Homo sapiens: one gene and its partners. The protein of the gene in region 3 interacts with the protein of the main gene of each other region in a pairwise test. Each region holds a gene or a part of one and is shown on either strand. Other genes may lie near its edges.

What was found.
Region 1: the proteins of U2AF1 (region 3) and SARNP interact in binary tests that used the Homo sapiens proteins (3 or more experiments, as listed by UniProt).
Region 2: the proteins of U2AF1 (region 3) and SRRM4 interact in binary tests that used the Homo sapiens proteins (3 or more experiments, as listed by UniProt).
Region 4: the proteins of U2AF1 (region 3) and HNRNPM come close enough for resonance energy transfer, tested with the Homo sapiens proteins (one study listed by BioGRID).

Annotation. Positions count from the first base shown.
Region 1 is NC_000012.12:55,807,513-55,814,801, forward strand, and holds part of SARNP (SAP domain-containing ribonucleoprotein), read right to left. Parts: intron 1-7,289. UniProt on the Homo sapiens protein: Binds both single-stranded and double-stranded DNA with higher affinity for the single-stranded form. Specifically binds to scaffold/matrix attachment region DNA. Also binds single-stranded RNA. Enhances RNA unwinding activity of DDX39A.
Region 2 is NC_000012.12:119,145,502-119,152,790, forward strand, and holds part of SRRM4 (serine/arginine repetitive matrix protein 4), read left to right. Parts: coding exon 1-184; intron 185-5,224; exon of another isoform or gene 5,225-5,324; intron 5,325-5,509; exon of another isoform or gene 5,510-5,515; coding exon 5,516-5,719; intron 5,720-7,289. UniProt on the Homo sapiens protein: Splicing factor specifically required for neural cell differentiation.
Region 3 is NC_000021.9:43,104,444-43,112,206, reverse strand, and holds the start of U2AF1 (splicing factor U2AF 35 kDa subunit), read left to right. Parts: upstream 1-4,636; 5' UTR 4,637-4,712; coding exon 4,713-4,756; intron 4,757-6,361; exon of another isoform or gene 6,362-6,421; intron 6,422-6,651; exon of another isoform or gene 6,652-6,705; intron 6,706-7,763. UniProt on the Homo sapiens protein: Plays a critical role in both constitutive and enhancer-dependent splicing by mediating protein-protein interactions and protein-RNA interactions required for accurate 3'-splice site selection. Recruits U2 snRNP to the branch point.
Region 4 is NC_000019.10:8,468,755-8,476,043, forward strand, and holds part of HNRNPM (heterogeneous nuclear ribonucleoprotein M), read left to right. Parts: intron 1-19; coding exon 20-80; intron 81-2,571; coding exon 2,572-2,673; intron 2,674-4,909; coding exon 4,910-4,954; intron 4,955-5,412; coding exon 5,413-5,490; intron 5,491-7,289. UniProt on the Homo sapiens protein: Pre-mRNA binding protein in vivo, binds avidly to poly(G) and poly(U) RNA homopolymers in vitro. Involved in splicing.

The DNA of each region.
Region 1 (7,289 bases), on a different chromosome or scaffold from region 3:
AAATTTTTGGTCGGGCGTGGTGGCTCACTCCTGTAATCCCAGCACTTTGAGAGGCCGAGGCAGGCGGATCATGAGGTCAGGAGATAGAGACCATCCTGGCTAGCACGGTGAAACCCCGTCTCTACTAAAAATACAAAAAAAAAAAAAAAAAATTAGCCGGGCGCGGTGGCGGGCGCCTGTAGTCCCAGCTCCTCAGGAGGCTGAGGCAGGAGAACGGCGTGAACCCGGGAGGCGGAGCTTGCAGTGAGCCGAGATCGTGCCACTGTACTTCCACCGGGGTGACAGAGCGAGACTTTGTCTCAAAAAAAAAAAAAAAAAAATTTTTTTTAAGAATCTTGATCTTTCTCACACTGATACATTATTTTCTTCCCACTTCCTGGAGAACAAGTCTTTTGATCTTAATTACACTTTAAATTTTTTGTTTGTTATAAAAGTATTATGTTCACTGTAGAATAGTTAGAAAATTCTGAAAAGTTTAGAGGAAAATAAAAGTCGTATGTAATCCCAGCACTTACAGATCACTTAACATTTACATATATCATTTGTAGTGAGGCGTGAGCCACTGTGCCCAGCCTACACACAGCTTTTACATAGTTGTATTACTTCTTTTGTTATATAGTGAGTTCTTCTCATATACTAGGACGTTATTTTAAAAGGAAAATAGACATTATTTTAAAAGGAAAATAGAGGCTGGGCATGGTGGCTCATGCCTGTAGTCCCTGCAAGTTGGAAGGCTGAGGCAGGAGGACAGCTTTGAGCCCCGGAGTTCAAGAACAGCCTGGGCAACAGAGTGAGACCCTGTTCCTACAATTTTTTTTTTTTTGAGATGGAGTTTCACTCTTGCTGCCCAGGCTGGAGTGCAATGGCGTGATCTTGGCTCACCGCAACCTCCACCTCCCGAGTTCAAGCAATTCTGCCTCAGCCTCCCGAGTAGCTGGGATTACACACACGCGCCACCATGCCTGGCTAATTTAGTGTTTTCCCATGTTGGTCAGGCTAGTCTCGAACTCTCGACCTCAGGTGATCCACCCGCCTCGGCCTCCCAAAGTGCTGGGATTACAGACATGAGCCACCACGCCCAGCCAAATTTTTTTTTTAATTAGTCACACAAGGTAGCACACGCCTGTGGTCCCAGCTACTAGGGAAGCTGAGGTGGGAGGAACGCTTGAACCTGGGAGGTCAAGGCTGCTATGAACTGTGATCACACCACTGTACTCCAGCCTGGGCAACACAGCAATACCTGGCCTCAAAAGAATGAATGAATGAGAAACAGATGAATAAAAACATAAAACAGCTGAAAATGATGTAATTTCTTTTTGCACGTATTTCAGCACAATTACATTAGCAGAACTAAAACCTTTTAAAACTTAAAATAGGAACTAACATAAAATCTTATCCCATTTTTCTAAATTGATTTGATTTGATTTGAAATGTTTTGGCTCCAACACTTTGGGAGGCTAGAGGTGGGCAGATCACTTGAGTCCAGGAGTTCGAGACCAGCCTGGACAATATGTTGAAATCCCATCTCTACTAAAAATACAAAAACAGCCAGGCATGGTGGCATGTGCCTGTAGTCCCAGCTACTTGAGGGGCTAAAGCTGGAGGATGGCCTGAGTCCAGGAAGTCGAGGCTGCAGTGAGCCGAGATCATGCCACTGCACTCCAGCCTGGGTAACAAAGGGAGACCCTATCTCAAAACAAACAAAAAATATTTTAACAAGTATACTGAATGAATTGTATGGTACGTGAATTGTATCTCAGTAAGGCTATTGAAAAAAAAAAATTAGCCGAGCATAGTCGCATGTGCCTACAGTCCCAGCTACTCAGGTGGCTGAGATGGAAAGATCACTTGGGTCTGGGAGGCTGAGGCTGCAATGAGCCATGATCATGCCACTGCACTCCAGCCTGGGCAACACAGTAAGACCCTGTCCCAAGAAGAAAATAAACAAAAAAAACCAGCTAGGTAGGCACAGTGATTCACATCTGTCATCCTAGTACTTTGGGAGGTCGACGCAGGAGGATCACTTGAGCCTAGGAGTTCAAGACCAGCCTGGGCAACACAGTGAGACCCTGTCTCTCAAAAAACAAAAAACTAGCCAGGCACACTTGTAGTCCTAGCTACTCGGGAGGCTAAGGCAGGGGCATCACTTGAGTCCAGGAGGTTGAGGCTGCAGTAAGCCATGATCACACCACTGCACTCCAGCCTGGGCGACAGAAGGGAGACCCTGTCTCAAAAAACAAAAAAAAAAAAGAAAAGAGTTATAGAACATTCTATAAGGATACTAACATTAATGTAAAAAATAATACACACACATCTCTGTATAATGTGTATAAACAAGATGCCTGGAGAAGAAACAGGTAAGTTAACACTGGTTGAATCTGAGAAGAGGAAGCTAGTTTGGGAAAAGTGTAGGAAAGAAACTTTTTACCATATACTCTTTTGTGAACTTGTGCATGATTACCTATTCAAAAAGTTTTTTAAATCTTATTTTTCAGTATCAATAAAGCATTCTCCATTCTACCTATCCAACCCACAGAGAAAAGACATATCAACTTACCCTCATCATACATTTGACATTAATCATGCATTGCCCTGTGATTTCTATTTATTTTTATTTTGACTCAGGGTTTTGCTCTGTTGCCCAGACTGGAATGCAGCAGTGCAATCGCAGCTCACTGCAGCCTCGACCTCCTGGGTTCAAATGATCCTCCTGCCTCAGCCTCCTGTATAGCTGGGACCACAGGTGTGTGCCACCACAGCCAGCTAATTTTTTTATTTCCAGTAGAGATGAGGTCTCACTATGTTGCCCAGGCTGTTCTTAAACTCCTGGGCTCAAGTGATCCTCCTGCCTCAGCCTCCCAAAGTGTTGGTTAGGATTATAGGCGTGAGCCACTGTGCCCAGCTTGCCCTGTGATTTCTTCTAGTTAACTGACCTTGAATTTTTTTTTTTTTTTTTTGAGACTCAGTTTCACTCTTGTCACTCAGGCTGGAGTACAGTGGCACAATCTCGGCTCACTGCAACCTCCGTCTCTCCAGTTCAAGCGATTCTCCTGCTTCAGCCTCTCCAGTAGCTGGAATTACAGGCGTGCACCACCATGCCCAGCTAATTTTGTATTTTTTAGAAGAGATGGGATTTCACCATGTTGGTCAGGCTGGTCTTGAACTCCTGACCTCAGGTGATCTTCCCGCCTCGGCCTCTCAAAGGGCTGGGATTACAGGCATGAGCTACCACACCCGGCCAAATTTTGATTAAAATATTTTATCAGAAATCTTTTTCACGTTGGCCAGGCGCGGTGGCTCACGCCTGTAATCCCAACACTTTGGGAGTCCGAGGCGGGCGGATCACCTGAGGTCAGGAGTTCAAGACCAGCCTGGCCAACATGGTGAAACTCTGTCTCTACTAAAAATACAAAAATTAGCCAGACGTGGTGGCAGGCACCTGTAATCCCAGCTACTCGGGAGGCTGAGGCAGGAGAAGGGCTTGAGCCCGGGAGGCAGAGGTTGCAGTGAGCCAAGCCAAGACCACGCCACTGCACTCCAGCCTGGGTGACAGAGCGAGACTCCATCCCAAAAAAAAAAAAAGAAATCATCTTTTTCATGTTATGTCAACATATAGTTTGTAAATTCTTTGAAGGCAGAGATGTTTTAGACCACCTATAACATATATGATGGGAACTCAAAATCCTTACAAGGAACCTAAGTGGTTGGTATTACAATTAGGCTTAAAGAAATTCAATAACTTGCTTAAATATCACACAGCTTGGCCAGGTGTGGTGGCTCATGCCTGTAATCCCAGCACTTTGGGAGGCTGAGGTGGGAGGATTGCTCAAAGCCAGGAGTTTGAGGCCAGCCCTGGGCAACACGGGTAGACTCTGTCTCTACAGAAAATTAAAAAATTAATACACAGTTCAGGTGTGGTGGTGTGCCCCTGTAGTCCCACCTACTGGGTGGGAGCAGGGGCTGAGGTGGATCACTTGAGTCCAGAAGACTGAAGCTGCAGTGACCCCTGATTGTGCCACTACACTCCAGCCTGGGAGAAAAAGCGAGACACTGTCTCAAAAAACAAACAAACAAACAAACAAACAAACAAACAAACCACAGCTTGTAAATAGTAGACCAATATGCCAGCTCAAGTGTCTCTGATTTATGCTCAATATTAACTGCCAAAGTCTTGGCACTTCTTTCTTTCACTCTCTCCTCCTCAGCCTCCTTGCTAGCTCTTCTTCCACTCAAACCTGTAAATATTCACTAAGATTCCTTCTTTGGGCGTCTTGTCATTCCACATATATCAAAGGCTAATTCACTTCCCGATTTCAATCAGCGGCAAAGTCTATCAGCATTATCTTTAAAATATATCCAAAATCAAACCCTTCTCACCACGGCAAATGCTACTACTCTAGTCTTTCTTTCATACAGATTATTGTCAAAATTCTTCAGCCCTTGCCTCACTATAGTTTATTCTCAACAAAGTAACAGAGTGATCTTTTGAAAATTTAAGTCAGAACATGTCACTCCTCTAGTCAAACATCATCCATTGGTTTCGTATCTCACTAAGGGTAAAAGGCTGAATCCTATCACCTAAAAGGCCCTGCAGCTTTGCCCTCCCCTACCATTACCTTATTACCATTGCTCACTCTGATAAGCCAAACTGGTCTTGTGCTATTCCTCTAACACTTTGCACATAGCTCATTCCTTCACGTCCTTCAACTCTTTTTGTAAACATCTCCTTGTTAATGACTTCCCCAGTCACTCTATTTAAAATTACAATACCCTTCCCATTGTACTCCCTATTCCTTTCTCCTATTTTTCTCTATGTGCCTTATCAATCACTATTTGACATACCATAAATTTTACTTTTTATTTTGCCTTCCCTCAGTAAAATACAAGCTCTATGAGAGCAAGGATTTTGTCTCTGTTGTTCACTGCTGTATCTTTGGCACCCACAGTAACTGGGACATGGCAGGTGCTCCATATTTTCTGAATAAATCCCAAGTCTTCATCATCAGCTTTCAGCTCTTGAGTGAAAGACCCACATTTCCAACTGACTACCTGACATGTCCAAGTGGATGTCCCACAGACACCTAAGCCTCAAAATGAACTTACCTCTTCTGTGCAAAACTGGCTTCTCCTCCTCCCAACCCAGACTAAAGGTATCACTACCCAAACCCTGGAGTCATCTTTCATTTTTCCCATATCTAACTGATCTATAAATACTTGAAATTCTACTACATCCTAAATGTCTTTCAAATTCATTCCCATTCTTTTGAAGTCTTGACATGCTTATTCACTCAACAAATCGTTATTGAGCACCTACTGTATTATCAAGTATTATCTTGGATACAGGGAAATAATCATGAGCAAAACATAAGAGTCCTTCCCATTCCGAGCTTACAATCTTGCAGAGAACAAACCAATCAATGATCAGATAGCGTTTAGCTGATTTTTTTTTTTTGAGACGGAGTCTCACTCTGTTGCCCAGGCTGGAGTGCAATGGCGCGATCTCGGCTCCTGCAACCTCCGCCTCCTGGGTTCAAGTGATTCTCCTGTCTCAGCCTCCCGAGTAGCTGGGATTACAAGTGCGCGCCACCAGGCCCAGCTACTTTTGGTATTTTTAGTAGAGATGGGGTTTCACCATATTGGTCAGGCTGGTCTCAAACTCCTGACCTCGTGATCTGCCCACCTTGGCCTCCCAAAGTGCTGGGATTACAGGCATGAGCCACCGTGCCCGGCATGTTTAGCTGATTTTTTAAGAACACACAGGGTCTTATGAAATTATATAAAAAGTGGCCTGACCATGTTTGTGGATAGAACATAGAAAGCTTCCTTGGGTAAATAATATTTGAGTGAAACACCTGAAAGGGGTGTAGTAATTAATTAGATAAACGTGTTAGGGAGGAAGGGCAGCCGGAGTACTACAGCCGAAAGAAAACTCCAATTGCAGCATATGTGAAGGTTCTAGGTTGAGGTAAGAGGGAGAAGCAGTGTGCAATGATTAGAACATGAATTTTGGACACAGGCTGCCTGGAATTTTTTTTTTTTTTTTTTTTTTGAGACGGAGTTTCACTTTTGTTGCCCAGGCTGGAGTGCAATGGTGCCATATCGGCTCACCGCAACCTCCACCTACGCGGTTCAAGTGATTCTCCTGCCTCAGCCCCCCGAGTAGCTGGGATTACAGGCATGTGCCATCACGCCCAGCTAATTTTGTATTTTTAATAGTGACGGGGTTTCTCCATGTTGGTCAGGCTGGTCTCGAACTCTCGACCTCAGGTGATCCGCCTGCCTCGGCCTCCCAAAGTACTGGGATTACAAGCGTGAGCCACTGCACCCAGCCTGCTTGGATTTAATATACAACATTTTAGCTGTGCAACCTAAGGCAAGTTACTCAGTTACTCTCTCTGAGCTATGGTTTTTCTTATTTTCAAATGAGGATAATACAGGTATTTACCTTACAGGGTTATTATGAGAATTAAATCAGTTAGTGTATGTAAATGGCTTCAAACAGTGCTTTGCCACATAACAAATGCTAAGTGTTGGCAATTGATGAAGCATTCTGAAGAAATTAAATAAAATAAGGCCACAGTAGTTGAAGAGTTAGTAACTATGCTGGAGAGACGGGCAGGGATATAATTTAAAGGTTTTAAGCAGGGGAATGACTCCTATAATAAATATCTAAGTGGTGAAATCGCTCCCCCTACAAATCCCATCCGCCAAGAGAATACAAGCTGATCACATCAAGCTCCTCCTTTCAAACTTCCAAAGGCTCCCAGCCCTACTTCTTACATGACAAAGGCCAGAAGTCCTTACATAACTTAGAAAGCCCTTTTCAATATCACTCTGATTTACCTTTATAGTTTACCTATTTTCCTTTCCAAACTATCTTCAACTACCAATATATTTCCTCACTTCACTTTTCAATACAAATGTCTCACTATTCTCAACACTCTGACACTACTATCACTTTCTCCTCTCCTCTGCAATAGTTCCTTTTCTAATGTTTGACTGGATATCTGATACTGTTACAGTTCAAGCCATTTTCATCCACAGTTCAATCTCTCTTTCCAAATGTGTTAGTATGGGCCAGGAGTGGTGGCTCATGCCTATAATCCCAGCACTTTGGGAGGCCAAGGCAAGAGGATCACCTGAGGTCAGTCAAGTCCAGCCGGACCAATAACATGGTGAAACCCCATCTCTACTAAAAATACAAAAATTAGCCAGGCATGGTGGCACGTGCCTGTAATCCCAGCTACTCGGGAAGCTGAGGCACGGGAATTGCTTGAACCTGGAAGGCG
Region 2 (7,289 bases), on a different chromosome or scaffold from region 3:
AAACCAGCTCAGCCAGGTCTCGGGGCCAGGAGAAGGGGAGCCCCAGTGGGGGCTTGAGCAAGAGCCGGGAGCTCAACAGTGGCAACACCTCTGATTCAGGGAACTCCTTCACCACCTCCTCACCCCAGAACAAGGGGGCCATGTTGGAGAATCTCTCCCCCACCAGCAGGGGCAGAGAGTCAAGGTCAGTGCACCACACAGGGTCGGGGGTAGACGGTCTCCCACCTTAGCTCCACCTTCTCATGCTCTCATCCCAGCCTCCCCCACTCCACCCCCAAGATTATTTTATTTGTAAGAGAGATGAAACTCAACTCAGACTGGCTTGTTTTAAAACACTAGTGGCACTAGCTTCAGGTACAGCTGGATTCAGGGGTTCAAAAATATGTTGCTGGAAATCCGTCTTTCTCATTACATCTCTTATTCTGCTTCCTCATCCTACTGGCCTTATTCTCAAGCAGATCCTCCCAAAGCATTGTCAAATATGCCAAGCAGCTAACATTCTATTGGTTTAGCCAGCCAACAGGAAAACAATGCTTCTTTCTCAAAGATTTCAGCCAAACACCAAGGCAGGTGCTTATTGGTTCTGTTTGGCCCAGCTTAGGTCATCTGCCCATCACTGTCCCAGGGGATGCTATGCTGTTGGCCAGAATGTGTCAGATGCCATCACTAGGGCTAATGAGTCGAACCTTCCCACACTCCTCTACAGGAAAAGCCAGGTTATTGGTATCAGGAGAGATGGAGGCTAGGCAGGCAAAAAAACAGATGACAATTTTACCAGTAATCTTAGAAGGAAGTCGAACATTGACCAGGCGTGGTGGCTCACACCTGTAATCCCAGCACTTTGGGAGGCCGAGGCGGGTGGATCACCTGAGGTCAGGAGTTCGAGACCGGCGTGACCAACATGGAGAAACCCTGTCTCTACTAGAAATACAAAATTAGCCGGGTGTGGTGGTACATGCCTGTAATCCCAGCTACTCGGGAGGCTGAGGCAGGAAAATTGCTTGAACCCTGGAGGCGGAGGTGGCAGTGAGCTGAGATTGTACCATTGCACTCCAGCCTGGGCAACAAGAGTGAAACTCCATCTCAAAAGAAAAAAAAAATGAAAGAAAGTCTAACATTAAATTAATTGTAAGTCATTTAAGAACATATCACAGGCCAGGTGCGGTGGCTCACGCCTGTAATCCCAGCACTTTGGGAGGCCGAGGCGGGTGGATCACGAGGTCAGGAGATCGAGACCATCCTGGCTAACACAGTGAAACCCCGTCTCTACTAAAAATACAAAAATTTAGCCAGGCATAGTGGCGGGCGCCTGTAGTCCCAGCTACTTGGGAGGCTGAGGCAGGAGAATGGCATAAACCTGGGAGGTGGAGCTTGCAGTGAGCCGAGATTGCGCCAGTGCACTCCAGCCTGGGTGACAGAGCCAGACTCCATCTCAAAAAAAAAAAAGAACATATCACAGTATTTACCCAAATGAATTGAAAACTTATCTCTACATAAAAACCTGCACTTGGATGTTACAACAGCTTTATTTGTAATTGCTAAAACTTGGAAGCAACCAGAATATCCTTCAGTACGTGAATGAATACATAAATTATGATACGTCCAGACAATGGAATGCTATTCAGTGCTCGGAAGGTATGAGGTACCACGCTATGAAAAGACATGGAGGAAATGTAAATGCATATTACTAAGTGAAAGAAGCCAATGTGAAAAGGTCACACACTGCATGGCTCCAACTGTATGACATTCTGGAAAAGGCAAAACTATGGAGAAAGTACAAAGATAAGTGGTTGCCAGAGGGTGAGGGGACAGAGGGATGAATAGGCAGAGCACAGAGGATTTTTAGGGCAATGGAACTACTCTGTGTGACACTACAATGGTGGATAACTGTCATTATACATTTGTCCAAATCCATAGAATGTATAACACCAAGAGGGTACTCTGATGTAAACTATAGACTCTGGGTGATAATGATGTGTCAATGGAGGTTCATCGATTGTAGCAAATGGACCACGTTGGTGGAGGATGCTGATAGTGGGGAATAAGGCTGTGCGTGTGTAGCAGCAAGAAGTATATGGGAGCTCCCTGTGCTTTCCATTCAATCATGCTATGAAACTAAAACTGCTCTAAAAAATAAAGTTTATTAATTATAGATACAGATATACCATAGTATAATTTATCAACATATCAGAGAACATTGAGATTTCTCCATTTTTTTACCCATCTTAACACACTCACTAGATGCAGTTTTCCTGCAGAAAACTCTTCCACACAGATGCATATGAGCCAGTTGTAATTCTACTTCGTCATCCGCTTAACTCTCTCACTCAAGAAATCACAACAAAATGCTAATCACTGAGGTTACTGTCATCATAATAGCTACTAAAATTTACTGATCACTTAGTCTGTACCATTCATTCTGTTGTTTATTCCTCAACTTGTTTATCAGGCAAGTCCTCTCTGCCAGACACTCAGCCTGGTGCTGGGGATTTAAAAATGGAACAGTCCTTTTTCTCAGGAGCTTATAATTAATGAGGCAGATGCACAGTTGCGGGATGGGTGGAAAAGCTTTGCTGGTGCCCTCTGTCATGCTAACAGTGAGGTTTTTCTACTTCTGAGGGTGGGAGTTTGCCTTTGTTCCATATAGCCAAAATTTTCAAAAGATGACTAACGCCTTAGCACTGAAGCAGCTAACAGCTTCTTCAAAGACAGAGCACTCTTTGTCCCTAACACATACCCCATTTCAGTCCTGGACAAACAGCTTGACATCCACATGCAGAACTGCCTTCCCATTTGCCTGCCCCAGGTCATCCCTGGCCTCAGCTCACACCCAAGCTTGACTGAGAACCTGAGCTGGGCCAGAGCCAATGTCAGTGTCTCCAAGAACAGGCAGTGAAGTTCCCAGAAGGGAGGAGGAGGACACATGTTTACTGATATACAGCAGTGCTATTATGCAGGAAAAATTGAAATAGCAATAACAACAACAATAATAACGGCAGTTCATATTCGTTGAGCCCAAATCACATGCTAGGTACACTGCCAAATGCTTTCCAGAAATAATCTTCCCGAGCTCCTCAAAACCTTTATAGGACAGTACTATTTGTAACCCTTTTTTACCTGATGGGGAAACTGAGGCTCAGAGTGGTTGAGAAACTCAGTTAATAAGTGGCAGCACCAGAATTCAAATACAAATATGTCCCCCAAACAGGAACTAAAGCCTGAGAGACATCTAGCAGTTACCTGTTTAATTTGATCTCCATGGACAGCCAAATTAAGTAATTTAGACCCAGCCTTTCACTTTGAAATATAAATGATGGTTGAGTCCATGACTGTTTATGTCATGCCACTTATGAGCAGAGAGGGCTCAATAAATATGGGCTGAGTGGAAGAGACATCAGCTCTAAATCAAAGGAACCATAGACACTGAAGGTAGGGAGCTGGTGAGGTGGGAGGGGTGGGGACTCTGGAGCTGCACAGATCAAGGTTTGGGGCTCTGGGTGGTTTTGAGGAAATAACAAACCCTTCTGAGACTTCTCTGTAAATCTGGGGGTAATAATAGCATTGGCAGCTGGGCGCAGTGGCTCATGCCTGTAATCCCAGCACTTTGGGAGGCCAAGGCAGGTGGATCACGAGGTCAAGAGATCAAAGCCATCCTGGCCAACATGGTGAAACCCCATTTCTACTAAAAATGCAAAAACTAGCTGAGTGTGGTGGTGCGCACCTGCAGTCCCAGCCACTCGGGAGGCTGAGGCAGGAGAATCGCTTGAACCTGGGAGGCGGAGGTTGCAGTCAGCCAAGATCACGTCACTGCACTCCAGCCTGGCGACAGAGCGAGACTGTCTCAAAAAATAAATAAATAATGATGTCGGCTTCAGAAGGTTGTTGGGAATGAAATGATGCTTGTGAAATTCTCAGAACATTGAAAAGGTCCCCAGGGAGCTGTCTCCAGGGAGCTCAATATCTGGGACAGAAGAGACAGCCTACAAGTATAAGACTAAGTAAGCCATATAGGGATAGGCAAAACATAGAACTAAGGTCTGTGGTAACACACTGGAGGTCGCCCAACCCAGACAGGGGACGGGGGTGTCAAGGAAGGTTTTCCAGAAAGGGTGAGGTCAAGCTAAAGCCAGAATCATAAGTAGGAGTTGCCAGATGAAGAGGGAATGGAGAGGGTTTGCAGACAGCCAGAATGTTCTGAGGCCTGGAGACAAGGAAGAGAATAGGGATATTTCAGGAGGAATAAGTAGTCTATGACAGCTGGAGTCAGGAGAGGAAAGAGTCAAGACCTGAGATTGGAGGGGTGAGCAGGTGCCAGGCCATCGTGAGCCTTGAAAACCATATTAATGTGATTTGAACTTGATTCTTGGCCCAATCCAAATAAATATGCCTTCACTGAGCACCTAACAGAGGTCAGCCTGGCCCTAGGCAGGGTGGGAGTACAGAAGACAGCACTCTAGCCTTCTGATAATCCTGAAGCCTCTGTCTTTTGGGAGGTCTCAATTCCTCCAACTGCAAAATGGGTTACATCAAAATTTCCCAAAACTAAACCAACAACAGGTCATCTTGATTTTTACCATATCCATGTACTACTGATATTCCTGTTTACTTTAATAAACTCATTTTTAATATATAAGTAAAAGGAAAATTACAGTACTATCTGAAATAGAAAATTAGAATCAAATGTCCTTGGCCGGGCACAGGGGCTCACATCTGTAATCCCAGCACTTTGGGAGGCCAAGGCGGGTGGATCATTTGAGGTCAGGAGTTTGAGACCAGTCTGGCCAACATAGTGAAACCCCATCTCTACTAAAAATACAAAAATTGGCTGGGTGTGGTGGCATGCACCTGTAATCTCAGCTACTCGGGAGGCTGAGGCAGGAGAATTGCTTGACCCCTGAAGGCAGAGGTTGCAGTCAGCCACTGCACTACAGCCTGGGTAACAGAGTGAGACTCTGTCTCAAAAAAAGAATCACATGTCCTAAATAAAAGGTACCTATAAAAACACATATGATTAAAACAATGGATTTAATCCTACTAGTTGCAGTTGCCTAACCAAGGCTGAGTCTGAGGTGTGCTCCTCTCTCTTAGAGAGATTACAAAGTGTTAGAGAGGTGTTACAAACCAACTAGCACCCAATGGGGGCTTCCTCATTAATGTAATCAGAAGGACAGAAAAAGACTAGACAGGGAATAAATTTCTCACCATGTAATCTGATGTTACTTACCATCATGCCCATGCCTGATGACATTCTAAAATACTCCACTGTGGCCCCAGCGGTATGTGTTTCACACTTGAGGAAATGCTAACCTGAATTGTCTACTTTTAAGGTATCTTCTGTCTCTACTCCTCTAACATATGTGGCCTGGGAAGTCTTTCCAGAGAGAATAGGATGGGAAAAGGGGCAAAGAGGGTTCTATGAGAGCACCACAGCCTAGGCCAAGGTAGGGAGGTATTCAAACAAGATGCTCCCAGAGTAGTGGGCAGTCGGTGCTCATGGACATTTTCCCACCTGCAGGGGATTTCAGTCACCGTGTCTGGAATGTGCCGAAGTGAAGAAGTCCAGTTTGGTCCCATCCACAGCCCGGAGCTCACCCATGAAAGGGTGTTCCCGCAGCTCCTCCTATGCCAGCACCCGATCCTCCAGTCACTCGTCCCGATCCCCAAATCCCAGGGCTTCCCCCAGGTACACCCAAAGCCGATCCACCTCTTCTGAAAAAAGGTGAGTGTGGTTTTGACCTTTGCTCTGCAGCACCTTTCTCCTTAGGAAATTAGTTAATTGCAGATGTCCTTTGACCCATGGGGGAGAGAAGTCAGACGGACTTAGGTTTGAATACTCGTTTTGCCCATTTCGAGCTGGTGGCCTTGGGAAAGTCAGTTAATTTCTCTGAACCTGAGTTTTCCCATCTGCAATATGAAGAAATAGCAATTCTTACCAGAAAAGATTGTTCTGAGGGCTATAAGGCACTTAGAACAGTACACAGAACATAATGAATATCAGTTATTATTGCTGCTATTGGCATGAGAATGAGCTAATGTGTATCAATTAACTTCTGCATAGAAAATTATCCCCAAACTTAGCATCTTTAAAACAAGTGCTACTTAGTTCCTGATCCTGTGGATCAGCAATTGGGCTGGGCTCAGCTGGGTGGTTCTTCTGATCTCATTGGGCTCACTCATACGCCTTTGATTGACTGGTGGGTTGGCTGGGGGCTGGAGAGTTTGAAAGACCCCAGCTGACTCATCACTCTACTCCATGAGGTCTCTCCTCCTCCAGCAGGCCTGTCTTGGTTTGTTCACATGGTGATGGCAGAATTCCAAGAGAGAGCACAGTATTGTGCAAGGCTTCTAGGCTTGGAAGTAATTAGCATCCCTTCTGCTATTCTATTAGCCATAGCAAGTCACAAGACCAGTACAGATTCAAGGGTATTCCTCTCAGTGAAAGGAGCTGCAAAGTCACATTGCAGGGGATGTGGACACTGGGAGAAGAAAAATTATGGCCATTTTTGCATTCTGCTACCCAGTTTCAATAGCTATTGGTAATCGCTTGATTGCCTCATGTAGAATAATAATGTAGCAGAATGAGACATGAAATCTCAGAAATCGGAAGATTCTATCCAAACGAATCAACCCATAAATTCAGGGAGTCCAGCTTTCCTCTGCAAAAAGAAATTCCCAATAGGAGCTTGATTGTTCCTCTTTTGCAACTATACAATCAAAAAACAGTTGCTTATTTAGCTGGTCATCTCAAGACTGGTCCATTCCAAAAAATGAGACAAGGCAACTGATGAAAATATTCAACATGATAGAGTGACATAAATAGAAGAGCAAATCAGGCTAAAAGAAAAATTAAGGAAAGAAATATAAAATTAAGTCAGGAGACAGTCCCAAAAGTACGTCCTACCATTCTGTAAAGTTGCTATGGAGGTAAGCTGCAAATATGACGTCTGAGCTCCCTGACAGACAAAGCAAAGAGGAAAATTACTCCCTCATTTACTACATTATTAACAAAAAAAAGATAAGAATTGAACCAGTTGCTCAGAAGAGCAGCTATTTCAGGTTTTTAATTCTATGAAAAATGACTCAGATGGCTCCACAGAAAAGGGACTCTATATGGTGCAGTGAATGGAAATTCTGATAATATCCTTTCAAAGTATCCAAAAACAGGTTTCATCTTGACTCTTTCTTATATCTCTCAATGCATAGCCAAAGCATAAGTTGGCAAAAGCACATTTTTCCAGTGACCATAGCTGGACACTGCTGAGGGCACTGAGAAGGGAAGAGCTATTCCT
Region 3 (7,763 bases):
CACCGCACCCAGTCTGTTCCAAATTTAAATATACTTTCCCCTTTTTGAGAGAAGGAAATGTGTGCATTGTGGAATTCCAAAAACACTGCTTAAGAGATGTATGGGAGCTGAGGGAACAGGCAGAAAGAGATGAGTTTAGATCATCCCAGAGGCAGAAGGAGAAGCAGCAGCTGGAAACAAACAGGAGAAAGCCTCCATGGTCTTTTTGTTTGTTTGTTTTTGTTTTTGTTTTGAGACAGAGTCTCACTCTGTCACCCAGGCTGGAGTACAGTGGCGCCATCTTGGCTCACTGCAACCTCCGCTTCCTGGGTTTCATGTGATTCTCTGCCTCAGCCTCCCAAGTAGCTGGGATTACAGGCGCCCGCCACCATGCCCGGCTAATTTTTGTATTTTTAATAGAGATGAGGTTTCACCATCTTGGCCAGGCTGGTCTTGAACTCCTGACCTCGTGATCCACCCACCTTGGCCTCCCAAAGTGCTGGGATTACAGGTGTGAGCCACCTCACCCAGCCTGAAACTACTTCTAAATTTTAAAAAGAACTGTGGATGGCTGGGCGTGGTGGCTCACACCTGTAATCCCAGCACTTTGGGAGGCCAAGGCTGGTGGATCACCTGAGATCAGAAGTTCGAGACCAGCCTGGCCTACATGGTGAAACCCTGTCTCTACTAAAAACACAAAACATTAGCCAGGCATGGTGGTGGGTGTCTGTAATCCCAGCTACTGGGAGGCTGAGGCAGAAGAATCGCTTGAACCCGGGAGGGGGAGGTTGCAACAAGCTGAGATCGTGCCACTGCACTCTAGCCTGGGCAACAAGAATGAAACTCTGTCTCAAAAAAAAAAAAAAAAAAATTGCGAGGCAAGGTGGGGGATGCCTGTAATCCCAGCTCAGAAGAATCGTTTGAACCTGGGAGGCAGAGGTTGCAGTGAGCCAAGATCACGCCAATGCACTCCAGCCTGGGTAACAGAGCAAGACTCTGTCTCAAAACAAACAAACAAAAGAAATAGTTTCAGATAATCTTCTGTTTTCTTCTTGCAAAGAAATGACTTCATCAGAACTTCTTTTAGAAGCTTCTAAGTATCATTGAAAAATAGCTCTCTCAGTTTTTAAATTTTAGATGCAGATTTTTCCTATTGAGTGCATAAACTAGTTACTTTAAAGGCGCCCCATTTTAGCTATTATAGTCTGGGGTCTTCACGGGTTAAGTGAGACCATGTTTCTAGATACTGACAGAAGGTGGCACCATAAGCATTGTCCACGAATCCAGCTGCCGTCTCTGCAGATGCATGTCTGCTCTAGAAGCACAAGTGTCCATAATTTAGATTTTCCTTCTGAATGACCAAAAATGCCTAAGGGGAGGAATTTTGGTCACTAAAGAAGAAAATGGCCAAGCGCGGTGACTCACGCCTGTAATCCCAGCACTTTGGAAGGCCGAGGCAGGGGGATCACGAGGTCAGGAGTTCAAGATCAGCTTGGCCAAGATGGTGAAACCCCAACTCTACTAAAAATACAAAAAATTAGCAGGGCATGGTGGCAGGCGCCTCTAATCCCAGCTACTTAGAAGGCTGAGGCAGAGAACTGCCTGAACTGAGGAGGCAGAGGTTGCAGTGAGCCGAGATCATGCCACTGCACTCCAGCCTGGGCGACAGAGCGAGACTCTGTCTCAAAAAAAAAAAAAAAAAAAAAAAAAAGAAGAAGAAGAAGAATGTTTAGATTTGTCAGTTGAACCAAGTTTCAGAATATGGCCAGTTTTAAAGATGACACTTTCTCCTTGACCAAATTTCGAATGAGAGAAAAGGCTGCAAACTGTAAAAAGACAAGCAAAACCTCAGACAGAAGTGAAAATCACAAATCTGCAGTCAACAGAATCTCTAGAGAATAAAAATGGAAACTCCTACCTTTCAGTGGAGCTTCAGTTCTAACCCTATCAAATTATTAGTGTGTAAGTCTCAATCTTCAACTAAGCTGGGAGGATTCAGATCCCAAGACTGGCCTTACCAGAGACCCCTGCCAGCCCCAGTGAGGTCGAGTAAACAACAGTCGTTTGTGCTGGTACCAAGGCTCCAACTATTGATGCCACTACTTAGTGGCAATCCCTGAAGGCCTGCTTCAGGTCCTATCTGGGTTGCCAAAATGTCAACCTCAAATAATGAAATTCAGGAAATATGATTAAGTATAGAGTTTATTTGAGCCCAAAGCTTGAGGATGGCTCCCTGGGCACATGCCCCTAGGTTGCCCTGAACATATGTTCCCATTAGCAGCAGTCACAGTGGGGTTTTAAGGAAAAGGAAGAGGCAGTCCCTAAGTTGTTAGCAAGAATTTGCATTAAAATAACAGAAGGTGCTGATTGGCTATGCATCGTTCTTAGCATCACTAATTCCATGTGAACAAGAAGATAATGGGTGAGGCAGCCTGTCAGGAGCAAAAATTCCATCAAACAATTGCCCTGGACAGTTGCTTCTATGGTGGAAGAGGCGCTGAATGAAGTCCCACACTCCTGCCTCTCTGGGCCTGATCATTCTGCACACCTCACAGAGCTCAGACTACCCTATTTTTCTTTTCTCAGGAAAAATGGGTGGATGGTACTGGTGGCCCTGCCTGGTCTGATCATCTACCCTGGTTCTAGTAACCAGATTAATTCCTTGTAATAGAGCTGTGGATTTCAGTTCAGTTCCCACGCACAGACCTTACCTCTGCTTTCTCCGACCACTTCTCCCCCACCCCAGGTACTTCACAGCTGAGAGCCTCTTGCCAGCTTCCAACTCTCCAGCAGTCTTTGTTCCCAGACCGTGTCCTGAGGCTGCACTTTCTGGACATGCCCACCTGCTGGACTGGCATCTGTCTTGTCACTTCTCTGGCCTCACCTCTGCGAAAGGAACACAAAAGTCAGGACCCCAGTTCACTCTGTCAAAAGGAAAAGAATGAGCTGAAAGCTGAGTCATGTAAGCAGCTGCCTTTCCTTTCGTTCCTAAGCAGACGGCTACAGATAGAAGGTTCAACATCCGCTTCTCTTATGTAAAGTGCTGATTTGCTGAGGAGTGAGCTGTACACAGTCGACTGTTCCCAACCTGCTTCTTTTCTCTTGCAACGTGTGGATTACCACACTGTTCCGCTTTCCCCTCCAGCCCACTTTTCCCCTTTAAATACTGAAGCCCTCAAAGTCATCTTTGGAGAAAGGCACAGACCACAGACTGTTTCTGTGATACCGTGTTTTTTTTCCTCCCAGGCATTGTCCTTAACCTTGGCAAAATAAACTTCTAAATTGATTGAGCCCTGTCTCAAGATACTTTTTGGTTTAAACCTCTGAGGCCCTACTGTTTCTAATACAGGTTTCCAGTTTGCTCATCTTTCCCAGGTAGGAAGATGCTCTGTTGCCAAGAGAAATGCAATTCTAACACGCAAATCCGCCCAAACACTAGAGCTCAGCATTCAGCTCTAGCCGAGCTAAGAGGATCCCATGGTCCTGCCCCACAGTCTGGGGCTCATCTTGTGGAGGAGGTAAGTAAAATAGGCCCTGTCTCTCTGACTTCTACCTAATCAGAGTTGATAGTTGCGTTGGAAATTAGGTAAATCGCAGGTGAGTTGATGAATGTGGGAAACCAGATGAAAATGGCTGCTTGATGGGGTTAAAACGCAGGAGAGGAATAGAACCCTTCCAACGGAATGGTTCCAGCCTTGTGACATGAGGAGACTGAAAGGGTATCCCAGAGGCAGGTCACTGGCCTTCCAGCTCCACCTGTGGGTGGCCTTGGCCAGGCAACTGCAAGAGTGCAGGGCCCCGGGGAGGTCGCACCTGGCAAGCGCTGAGGGAGGGTAAAGCGGAGAGGGGTGTGAGAAGAGAAAAACAACACAGAGCGTCCGAGCTATGTGAGGCGTGCGAGGTTAATCCGGCCCGGAGAGACAGGTCTATGCGGCTTCAGCGGTCCCCACCCATGCCTGGCAATTGTTTAAAGGCACTATTGCTCCGGACCCGCTGCCTTCACCCATGAACTTCCTTTCCTGGAATTATGATATAAAGAACAACGTACAGCCAATTAATAGCTTGTTATTTTCATGTAAATTCTTGGTGAGCTATTTAAGAACTGCCCCCCTCTTAAGCTTTATAAACCCACTTGTCACTGTTGCAAATCCTATGTTCAGGGCAACTTGAAGCTATGCTCCCGGGTTGCAATCTTCAAACTTGGCCCAAATAACCTCTCTACTTATATCAAGTTTGCCTCAGCTTTTTTTTTCTTCTAGGTCGACGGTTCCCGCCCCGCAAGGGTGCAGGGAAGGGGACGCCCGCACTTCCTAGTGCTCCCTTAGCTGGGGTCGAGCTGAGCGCCCCCCACCGAGCCCCAGGCGGCTCTGTGGAGAAGCCCCTCGGCCCCGGGTTCGGTCTGCACTGCCAGCCCCCAGTCCCCGGCGCGCAGGATCCAGCAGGGCCAGCGCCGGGCGGGCGAGAAGGCGAGAGAGCTAGGGCCGGGCGGGGAGGGCACCGGCAGGGGGCGCGGGTTCCCAGGACCGAAAAGGCGGAGCCTCCCACGCGCACTACGTGCTCCCTACGCGCATGCGTCCCGCCCACGCGCAGGCAGCACCTCGCCTGACTGGGTAGCGCTGCCACGTCGGGGCGGGGAAGAGCGTCGTCGCGTCCGGGTGACGTCTCCCGAGGGCGTCGGCAGGGTCGGCGGCGTCGGCAGCAGTGTCGACGGCAGCGGCGGCGGCGGGTGGGAAATGGCGGAGTATCTGGCCTCCATCTTCGGCACCGAGAAAGACAAGTGAGTGGGAGCCCCCCGCCGGGGGTTGGGCGCGATCGGGGCGCAGGGTGGTTGAGGCGGTGGGAGGGCGACCGGGGAGGCCCAGGCGGGCCGGCGCGGCGGTGGCGGGGGAGGGGCGCGCGGCGGGAAGGAGCGGTGGCCCTTCCGGCCCCTTGCGCGCCCTCCGGAGCCGCCGCCTCGTGGGCCGCGCGGCGGAAAACTGGAGCGGGCAGAATGAATGGGGTCTCTTTTCGGGGCGCCGCGGCCGAGCTTTCTCCGGCCTTGGGGTCCGGACTGGCTGATCGCCCGACGTCCGGGCCTCCGAGTCGCCGACTCCCGGAAGCCGCCTCGAGCCGCGCTGAAAGTTGCCTGGAGCATCCGGGCCTTTTGGACGTGGACACGTTTGTTCCAACTTTCGGCTGTGAATGTCCTGTCGAGCAAGCTCTGGTACCAGCCTCGCCAGTATTCAGTCGCTTATCTAACTTAGGGTCCTAAGCGTTGGTGTTTTATCCACTTAGCCAGCCTCTTGCCTGTTTAAGCGACCGCTGGGCCGGCAGTAAGGAGATATGACGAGAAAAAGTATGGTGGAGACTACTGGATTAACTATCTAACCACAAGAGACGTGATCCGCTCTTAACATACAGGTGCTCCTGGATTTACCATGGGATTGCGTTCCGATAAACCCATCATGAATCGAAAATGCCTTTAATACCCCGATAAACCCATCATCTAAGTTGAAAATTTGTAAGTCGGTGACTGTTCTTGAAGACACAATTCTGATATAAGGAAAAAGATGTTTTGATTTTTTCCTTAAGGTTGCATGCCTTCCCTAATCAATCGTTAGGTTAAAAGCAAAACATTTAATTTCAGCTTTAATTGCCACCTTGGCACGTACTAATTTCCAGTGAGTTGGCTGTAGTTTAGACTAAATGGAATGTTTTCAGACGTTTGAAGGATAATTCTTACTTTGAAAACCTAAAGACTCAGCATCTGGCTTAATCTACTCTTTAGTTATCTTGGCATTCTTCAGTGCCATACAAAGTTAACATGACTTTATGTTTTCAATGATAAACCCCTAAGTTTGTCATAGATGTTTTTAATGCCACTTTTTTCAAACGCTATTTAAAATGTTTCTCTTTTCCAGGATGGAGTCTATCTTGTAAAATGTCCTCTTCACACATGGTAGAATCTCCTGTGTTGTTTGGATGAGGAGGCTATATTTCTAGCAAAATTTTAAGCCAAAATCTACCAGTTATAGTCACTCCAGAAACATTTAGTGGGGGTCAACTATAGGTCAGTTTCTGGAGACTTAAACATGGGTAAAATTTGGATATTATCCTTAAGGAACTCACGGTATGATCTTGGCGAATGAATAGACCAGCTCTATCGGAACAAGAGACTCTTCTGAGTTTAGGGTGAAGAACTAACACATGTAGGATCGGGGCATCATTAATTTCTCCTTTTCATATTTGCATGTGGCATGACTTCTGTCTTGTAAAAGTCTATCTCCCTATATTTCTGCTATAAGCAACCACATTTCAATCTATTGGGCTATACTATAAAGGTCATGGTTTTAATTCAGAAAAGTTGATTATTTAATCTAGGTTACTTGTGTTTTCTTTTCAGGGAGACGTGGGGTTTTAGCTTCCAGGGAACAGGATCAACTCCTGAAAAATGAAGCTGATGGTTCATATTAACTTTAATTATTATTTAAGCTAAGAATAAAATATAGATCTCTACCAATTAAAAAATGTTTAGCTTATTATATGTTTGAAGTTATAGATGTTTTCTAGATTCAGGGATATCCTAATAGCTTGTCTGTAGTTTAATTGTGTGGAATAATTGGATATTAATTGTTGAGGCCCAGGGCTTGCCCATTCTGAGGTAGTTTTTAAATAAGCTTTCTTTATTTTTAGATGACTTCCTAAAGATATGCTATTGTCTAATCAAGTTAAATAATCTCAAGACCTGTAAGTTTGCAAATATATATAATCACTTTCCTCTCCTGATAAATTTGGACTTTCCCATCTTTATTGCTACCTGATAATAAATCAGTGGCTAGTCAGTCTTCATGGTCCATTAGATTTCACTGAGGTTGAGGCCCTTCAATCTTAACTCTGGATTGACTGTTTAAAACATAATGGCACTTGGTTAAAAAAAAATTGAATTTTGAACAAAGTCTGTCTGGTAAGATGTCCTAATTCATCAGAGATCGGCTTCCCTCCCTGACATTGCTGGCACACAGGCATGATTGCTGGTTCCATTGGATATGGATCTGGATTGTCAGCGTATTTGAACAGTATTAAGGGAGGGTTTTGCAGTAGAGACAGAAGGTGACGTAAGGTGGTTCCTAAGGTGGGTTCGGTCAGTCCCCTAATAGTTTGTTTTCAGTGTATTGAGACCAGGAGAATTGATTTACTTCAGACCTATTTTTTGAAACTCCCTGTTGGTCTGGTGTCATGCGTTTAGAGAGACTCTGAACTTCGTTTTCTGTTTTCCTTAGATAATGATAGCACTTCATGAGCACCATATGTGAAGCACACATACGTTCTGTCTGACTCTCAGAACAGTGCCACATTGGCATTGTCATCATTTACAGATGACATCTGAGAGCTAGGGTGACTTGCCCAAGCCCAAGCAGCTGGTAGCAGAGTTGGGATCTTAACCCTCACCACACCGGTGTTTTCAAGAGAGAACTTGGTCGTGGAGAACTGGAGAACAGATACTGCCTAAGTTACATTTAGTTTTAGACTAATTTAATACTCCATTTAAGAAACAAACAGAACAGCTGTGCAGTTAGGAAAGTGGAGGGGATTTGAATGAGGAGGAGGCGGGTTAGAGTTAGAACCGTCTTTGCTGAACAAGTAGTGTGTTTGCAGAAAGGGAAGTTGAAGTTACGTTGTCCTAAAATACAGCAAGGAAGAGGAGGTGCTTAATACCACGGAAAAAAGTCTGTGTCATGTTTCTGTGAGGTTAAAAGTAATTTGATAGTGTATGTCATGCTGCTGACATATTCCATGTGTTTGAT
Region 4 (7,289 bases), on a different chromosome or scaffold from region 3:
TGTTTTCTTTCTCTTTCAGGATGAGAGGGCCTTACCAAAAGGAGATTTCTTCCCTCCTGAGCGTCCACAACAACTTCCCCGTAAGTGTTTCAGTGATTAGGGCTGAGAGTTTGAATTGGAGTTACACTAATAAACAGAAAATTACCATATGGTTTCACTTGAACCTGTGCCAGGTTAGCCCTCAGTTCTCTTGGCCAGTTCTTTTCTATAGATTTTTCAGGGTGAGAAATGAGCAGAGATTCACAACTTGAGGATATTGTTAGGATTACCTCATGGTAATCCTAGGATTGTAATACCAGGATGTAGAGGATGTGGTTAGGCATTTTGAAAGTGTCCTGGGGAAGGAAGAATCAGAACCTGTGAAGGGAATGAAAACCAGGCTGCACTCTAATTCAGAAGATACTGGTTAGTCCCATGTGGGCTAGCAGTGCACACTAGACATCTGCACAGAAATTCGCACGCAGATGTTTGCAGCAGGATGAAAGACACATGCTGCAGTGTGGATGAACCTCGATTTCATCTACAGGAAATGCTCCGCATAGATAAATGCATAAAGGCAGAAAGTAGATTAGTGGTTGCCTGAGGCCGGGAAGGAGTAAGTAGGGACGGGACTGCTAATAAGGTTGGATTTCTTTTTTGGGTGATGAAAATGTTCTGGAATTAAATGGTAGTGATAGTTGCATATCTCTGAATATACTAAAAACCACCGAATACTTTGAGTTTTATGGTATGTGAAGTGTCTTGAACAAATAATTTGTATGCAGAGGGGAAAGGGATCAGCTATTTGTGACACCCAGGTGAAAATCTGTCTCGTGACAGGGAAGGCTAGTTGATGGGCTACCACATAGGTAGAAGTGGCAAATATTAGTGCAGAGTCATAGATAAGCCAGAGGCTGGAAGCAAGAACCTCAGTGCATACAGCGGTGGGACGACTCAGGGAATCACTGGCGCAGGTAAAGCTCTCCTGGAGAAGAAAGATGGATGAGGGTGAGAGGCCTGTGTGTGCTGTGCTGGGGTGACCTCCACCAGGCGGGTTGAGGGGGCCTGGTCTGGAGCAGCAGCTCAAGCTCAGGGCCCTACTCACTGAGTTGGATGGGAGCCCAGGCCAGAGCACCTTTGCAGCGTAGCATTATGGCAGCATGACAGATGTATCTTGAAGGGAAATCTGTGGCTTCATGAGAAGGCTCATCTGTTGAAAGGCAACATTAGTTAGAGAAGGATTGCATTTCCTGGACATAACATACTCATTTCCCAAATAAATTGTCAGTGTGCTCACCTGAGCAGTGGTCACCCTGGACCATGGCGATGGCTCTTGTTGACTCTTGTGCTGGAGCAGGAGGAGGAGCACACTGCTCCAGGGAGCCTGTTATCCATGGCTCTTGGTCTCCCGGCCATTTCGGAGGCTTGACTTCAAAGCCTTCAGTGCTTTGGGAGAGTAAGTCACCGTGGCGATCTCTTGCTGCTGTTGCTATGCAATTAAAGATGGAATGTTCATCAGATGAAACGCCTGGGAAGTGGTGGCAGGTTTTATTTACTTTTTAAATGAACTTTGTTTGCTTTCTTTCCTTCCTTTCTTCCTTTTTCTTTCTTTTTGATGGAGTCTCGCTCTGTCGCCCAGGCTGGAGTGCAGTGGTGCGGTCTTGGCTTGCTGCAACCTCCATTTCCTGGGTTCTAGTGATTCTCCTGTCAGCCTTCCAAGTAGCAGCGATTACAGGCATGTGCCACCATGCCAGGCTAATTTTTTTTTTTTTTTAGTAGAGATGGGGTTTTGCCATGTTGGCCAGGATGGTCTCGAACTCCTGACCTCACGTGATCCACCCGCCTTGGCCTCCCAAAGTGCTGGGATTTCAGGCGTGAGCCACTGCGCCTGCCCTTGTTACGATTTTTAAAAGCTTACCTGGTTGTAGTTTAAGCCTCAGATGGTGGTTACCCCAGATATTGCAAGTGTCAGCTCTTTTGGCTGTTTCCAGAGACCAGCCTGTATTTCTGTGTCCCTGTCTGTGTTGGTAGGGCATGGAGTTGAGTGTGGGCTGGGTATCCAGTTGTGGGTTGGGAAGCTTTGGGGGAAGGAAGATAGGTTCTTTGAATACATACATTAGCTTCATTGTTACTAAAACCACCCAGATTCAGAGAGTAGTGGACACCCAGGATGTTGATTGGCTGGTTTGTAACGTGTTTTTTCATGAGAAACATCCTTTGGGCTACTAGGGATTGGGCACATTTGTGCTGCTTGCCACCTGATGTCTTGAGTCACCTTTTTTGATCAGACAGTTCTCAGTCCATGGGTTAGTGAAACAAATAGGCTCTCAAGAATCTTAGTGTGGGGGTTGTTAACTTTCCCGTGTTGGTTTTCAGCCGCCTTTGTTGTATACACACATATCCCAAACGCCGGAACAAGGCTCTGTTTCCAAGTGTGCCGATGTTGAATTTTGCATTGGGCCCTGAGGTCACTGGTGGGTGGGGGTGGGTAGGCTGAAGTGGATAGCTGCAACTCACTAAACACTCTTTTCCTTTGAGGGTCAAGGTTTGCTAAATAGGGGAAAACTAAGCTTCTTTCTCTTTTCTTTCCAGATGGCCTTGGTGGTATTGGCATGGGGTTAGGACCAGGAGGGCAACCCATTGATGCCAATCACCTGAATAAAGGCATCGGAATGGGAAACATAGGTCCCGCAGGTGAGAATGACAGTGCACCTTGCTTGGTGGTTTGGGGAAGTGAAAATTATTAATTATTGGGACAACTGGACTTTGAGTAGTTTAAATGGAATAAATATTTAACTGGGACAAAATTCCCTCCTTATTCATCTCTGCCTCATTTTGAATAAAGGCAGTATTTTGTATTTTTATCAAGTTGAGTCATTTTTTAAAAAGTCATTATGCTTTTTCATTGTAACCTGACAACAACCTTCTAAGCTGAAATAGTTGTGCCATTTGATAAGAGGAGGCAAGCCAGAGAGTTGATCTTGCTCAAGGTCACACTGTCAGTTACTGACAGGCTGCAGGTCTCCTGACCACGGGACCATAGCACTGCCGCAGTGCCCTGAAAAGTGTCTTACCAAGACCCCTTTGGGCCCTCCTGGTGTTTGCACAGCTGCTGCTAGAGAGCTAGGGGCATTGATAGATGCAAAAAAGGTGGAGAGGCCAGGCACGGTGGCTCACGCCTGTAATCCCAGCACTTTGGGAGGCCGAGGTGGGCGGATCACAAGGTCAGGAGTTTGAGACCATCCTGGCCAACATGGTGAAACCCCATCTCTACTAAAAATAAAACAATTAGCCGGGCGTGGTGGCGCACGCCTGTAATCCCAGTTACTCAAGAGGCTGAGGCAGGAGAATTGCTTGAACCCGGGAGGCGGAGGTTGCAGTGAGCTGAGATCACATGACTGCACTTCAGCCTGGCAACAGAGCGAGAGTCCGTCTCCAGAAAAAAAAAAAAAAAAAAAACCTGCATGAAAGCTTTGATGTGTAGAATAAACTCAGGCTTTGCTGTTTAGCATTTTCATTGCTGTGTAATGATGTATTTTGATTCTATTAAGGAATATGTCATTTTTATGACCTTAGACTTTGGTCTTTGTTGGAATCCTTTGAAATTGGAATATGGAAGCCCCTCTATCCCACCATTGTCAGTGTTGCATATCCCTAGACTCTCTTCCAGAGTCACCCTGGGGCTGACTTAAATTCTGGGCCACAACTTCAAATGGCTGTTAACGTTTCCCCCGACCCAAAACACACACACCCCATGTCTGACATCTAAACAGAAAGACTGGGGGTTGGGGAGGAAGTCTTGGTGTTTTTAGGAACTGGTTTTTATTTTGAAGATTTTACCTTTAACAGGGATTGATTTATTGAGACGGAATTTTGCTCTTGTTGCCCAGGCTGGAGTGCAGTGGCTCAATCTCAGCTTACCGCACTCAATCTCTGCCTCCTGGGTTCAAGTGATTCTCCTGCCTCAGCCTCCCAAGTAGCTGGGATTACAGGCATGTGCCACCACACCCAGCTAATTTTTTGTATTTAGTAGAGACAGGGTTTCACCATGTTGGTCAGGCCGGGCTGGAACTCCTGACCTCAGGTGATCCACCCGCCTCGGCTTCCTGAAGTGCTGGGATTACAGGCGTGAGTCACCACGCCCACCCTTAACAGGGATTCTTAAAAAAAATCTACTTCTGTTCCCTAAAATTTTCTAAAAAGTTTATGTTCCATAGAATGTGTCTTATAATTCTATTTCATGTTTAATACTGCCTAACTTGAGGCCTGGTGTGGTGGCTTATGCCTGTAATCCCAGCAATTTGGAGGCCGAGGGTTTGAGACTAGTCTAGGCGACATAGACTCCATCTCTACAAAATATAAAAAAAATCAGCCAGGTGTGGTGGCGTAGTCCCAGCTACTTGGGAGGCTGAGGCAAGAGGATCACTTGAGCCTGGGATGTTGAGGCTGTAGGGAGCTGTGACCATGCCACTGCATTCCAGCCCCAGTGACAGAAGGAGACCCTGTCTCAAAAACAAAAAAAACACAAAAACCCTGCCCGACTGGGTCATTAAAGTATGTAGATCCCTCAGAAAAAGATTAGCCAGGCGTGGTAGCAGGCGCCTGTAATCTCAGCTAGTCGGGAGGCTGAGGCAGGAGAATTGCTTGAACCCGGGAGGTGGAGGTTGCAGTGAGCCAAGATTGTGCCATTGCATTCCAGCCTGGGTGACAGAGCAATACTGTGTTTAAAAAAAAAAAAAATAGCTATATGATATTTGACAGTTGAAATGGTAAGGGCTTTTTTTCTTGCTGATTAAAATATATAAAATATACTTGTCATCAGGGATTTTCTTTTGAGTTCTTTTGCTGGTTTGGAATTATGCTTTTTAAGTTCAAACGTTATTTACTGCTTTGACATAATTTTAGTTTGCATTGACTTTTTCTTTTTAAGGAATGGGAATGGAAGGCATAGGATTTGGAATAAATAAAATGGGAGGTAAGAAATTTAAAATGAAGTACAAGCATAATCACTTTTAGGCATAGTTTTCTCTCTTTCCTCTTTTCTTTCTTGTTTAAACCCTGCATGAAATTCTCTTTGGTTTCAGTTTGAGTCTAGAAATGACTTCCTCCTGCCTGTCCATCCTTCCAGCGGGTGTCTTGGCTTTTGGTTCTGGCTGTCTCACTAACTAGCTCTGTGACCTTGGGCAGACCACTCCATCTCTATGCCTCTTTTTGCTTGTCTATTCATTGAGGGGGTTGGATCAGACCAGCTTTTTGAAGATGGGTGATTTTTAAACAAGGGTGCTAGCATTTTTTTTGTTTTTCAAAAGCCTTTAAACTTGGTAAGTTCTTGGCAGAAGATACCCCAGTTGAAACATGTGATAGAATTTTTCTTTCCCTGCTTAGTCTAAGCAGTCTTGTTGGATGATGCTGAAATGTGAACCTCTCTTGCAGGAATGGAGGGGCCCTTTGGTGGTGGTATGGAAAACATGGGTCGATTTGGATCTGGGATGAACATGGGCAGGATAAATGGTAAGCATCGTGTTTTCTTCCTGCTTTCACTCACCCTTTGCCGGCTGTTGCCTCTCAGGTGACTTTTAGGCTGCAGACCCACTGAATAAGTGGTTTCTCACTTCTGCTTTTCAACCGAATCAAATGTCTTTTGAATTGCCTTAAATATTTCAAAAACTAGACATAATAGTAGACTTACTTCACTTGGTCGCTAGTCTTTTGAGATGTCCTGTGTTCCCAAGCTCTGCAGTAATTTTCGAGTACAGTGTTAAAAAGCATGTACACGTTCGTGGTTATGGTCTCCGAGTATGAGGGATTCTTTAAAGTTTGTAATCAAGTTTGTCTCTGGGAGTGCTGCAAAGGGTTGTTCTTGGTCATCTGCCCCAGCTACAAGTTGTCTATAGAGGCGTTAATAAAAATCACAGGCTCTTTTAATTTAGCATTTACATAATGCAAATTCTGGTTTAGTATAATTCAAATCCTCCACCAACTTTTTTTTTTTTTTTTTTGAGACAGGGTCTCACTCTGTCACCTAGGCTGGAGTGCAATGGTGCGATCTTGGCTCACTGCAACCTCCGCCTCCCAGGTTCAAGTGATTCTCCTGCCCCAGCCTCCTGAGTAGCTGGTATTACAGGTGTGTGCCACCATGCCTGGATAATTTTTATATGTTTAGTAGAGTCGGAGTTTCACCATGTTGGCCAGGCTGGCCTCGAACTCCTGACTTCATGTGATCCGCCCGCCTCAGCCTCCCAAAGTGCTGGGATTACAGGCGTGAGCCACCGTGCTCGGCACCTGCCCCCAACTTTTTAGCAGAAATATAATAATATAATAACAATGTAGTATTTCATTTAGTCCTTGTGAGAACCACATGATATGTACATACTGCTATCCTTGTTTCATCTGAAACTGAGGCACAGAGAGTGACATGCCTAGGTCAAGTGACTGGTAAACAGTGGTGCCTGCATGTGAACCCAGGCTGTCTGGCTCCAGAGCCTGGCACTTCATCATGTGGGAATCCTGCCTTTTAGAAGTGCCTCCAGCACAGCACTTGGCCCAGGGCACCAGCAGGGCTGTAGAGTGTGCATGAGAAATTGTAAATTTTCCTTTTTGAAATCCTTTATGTGTTGGTGACTCTTTGACCTTCCCCTTCACTGCAGGAAAGCTGCTGCTTTTTTACACAGAAACTTTCTTGGACTGAGAAGTCATTAGGGATTTAGGTATAAACCTTCCTTTGCGGGTCTGCCATAACAAAGGATGTGAAAATGGTACAAGGACAGACATCATTGTCAGGCTTGAAAGGCGGCTGTCCCTGATGATCAGGCCCTTCTTCCGGTGCACAGGGAGCAGTGGGGCATGATGTGTGTTGCCCTCTTCATGGGTGCCTTGTTCTAGAAGCTGGTAAAAGGATGTAGGAAAGTTGTCACCATTAGTAATAAAGCAACAGAGGTCTGCGTTTCCAGTGTACATTCAAGCTTGCCTGTAACTTGTGTGTGCATGGGATTTTAATTTTTAAAAAAAGTTTCAGAAATCTGGCTTGGTAAAATGTTACTCAGAGCAGATTAGTCTGGGTGTGCTGGCTCACGCCTGTAATCCCAACACTTTGGGAGGCTGGGGTAAGAGGATTGCTTGAGCTCAGGAGTTCAAGATCAGCCTAGGCAACACTGCGAAACCCCATCTCTCTCTTTTTTTTTTTTTTTTTTTTTTTTAAGAACAGATTAGTCATTAGGGAATTTGAGTTGTTGCTGTGAGGAGTAGAGTGATGCAGTTTAGAAGTAGATGGAAATCAGGATGGGTTGGCCTGGGAGCTGTGCTGAGCCGTG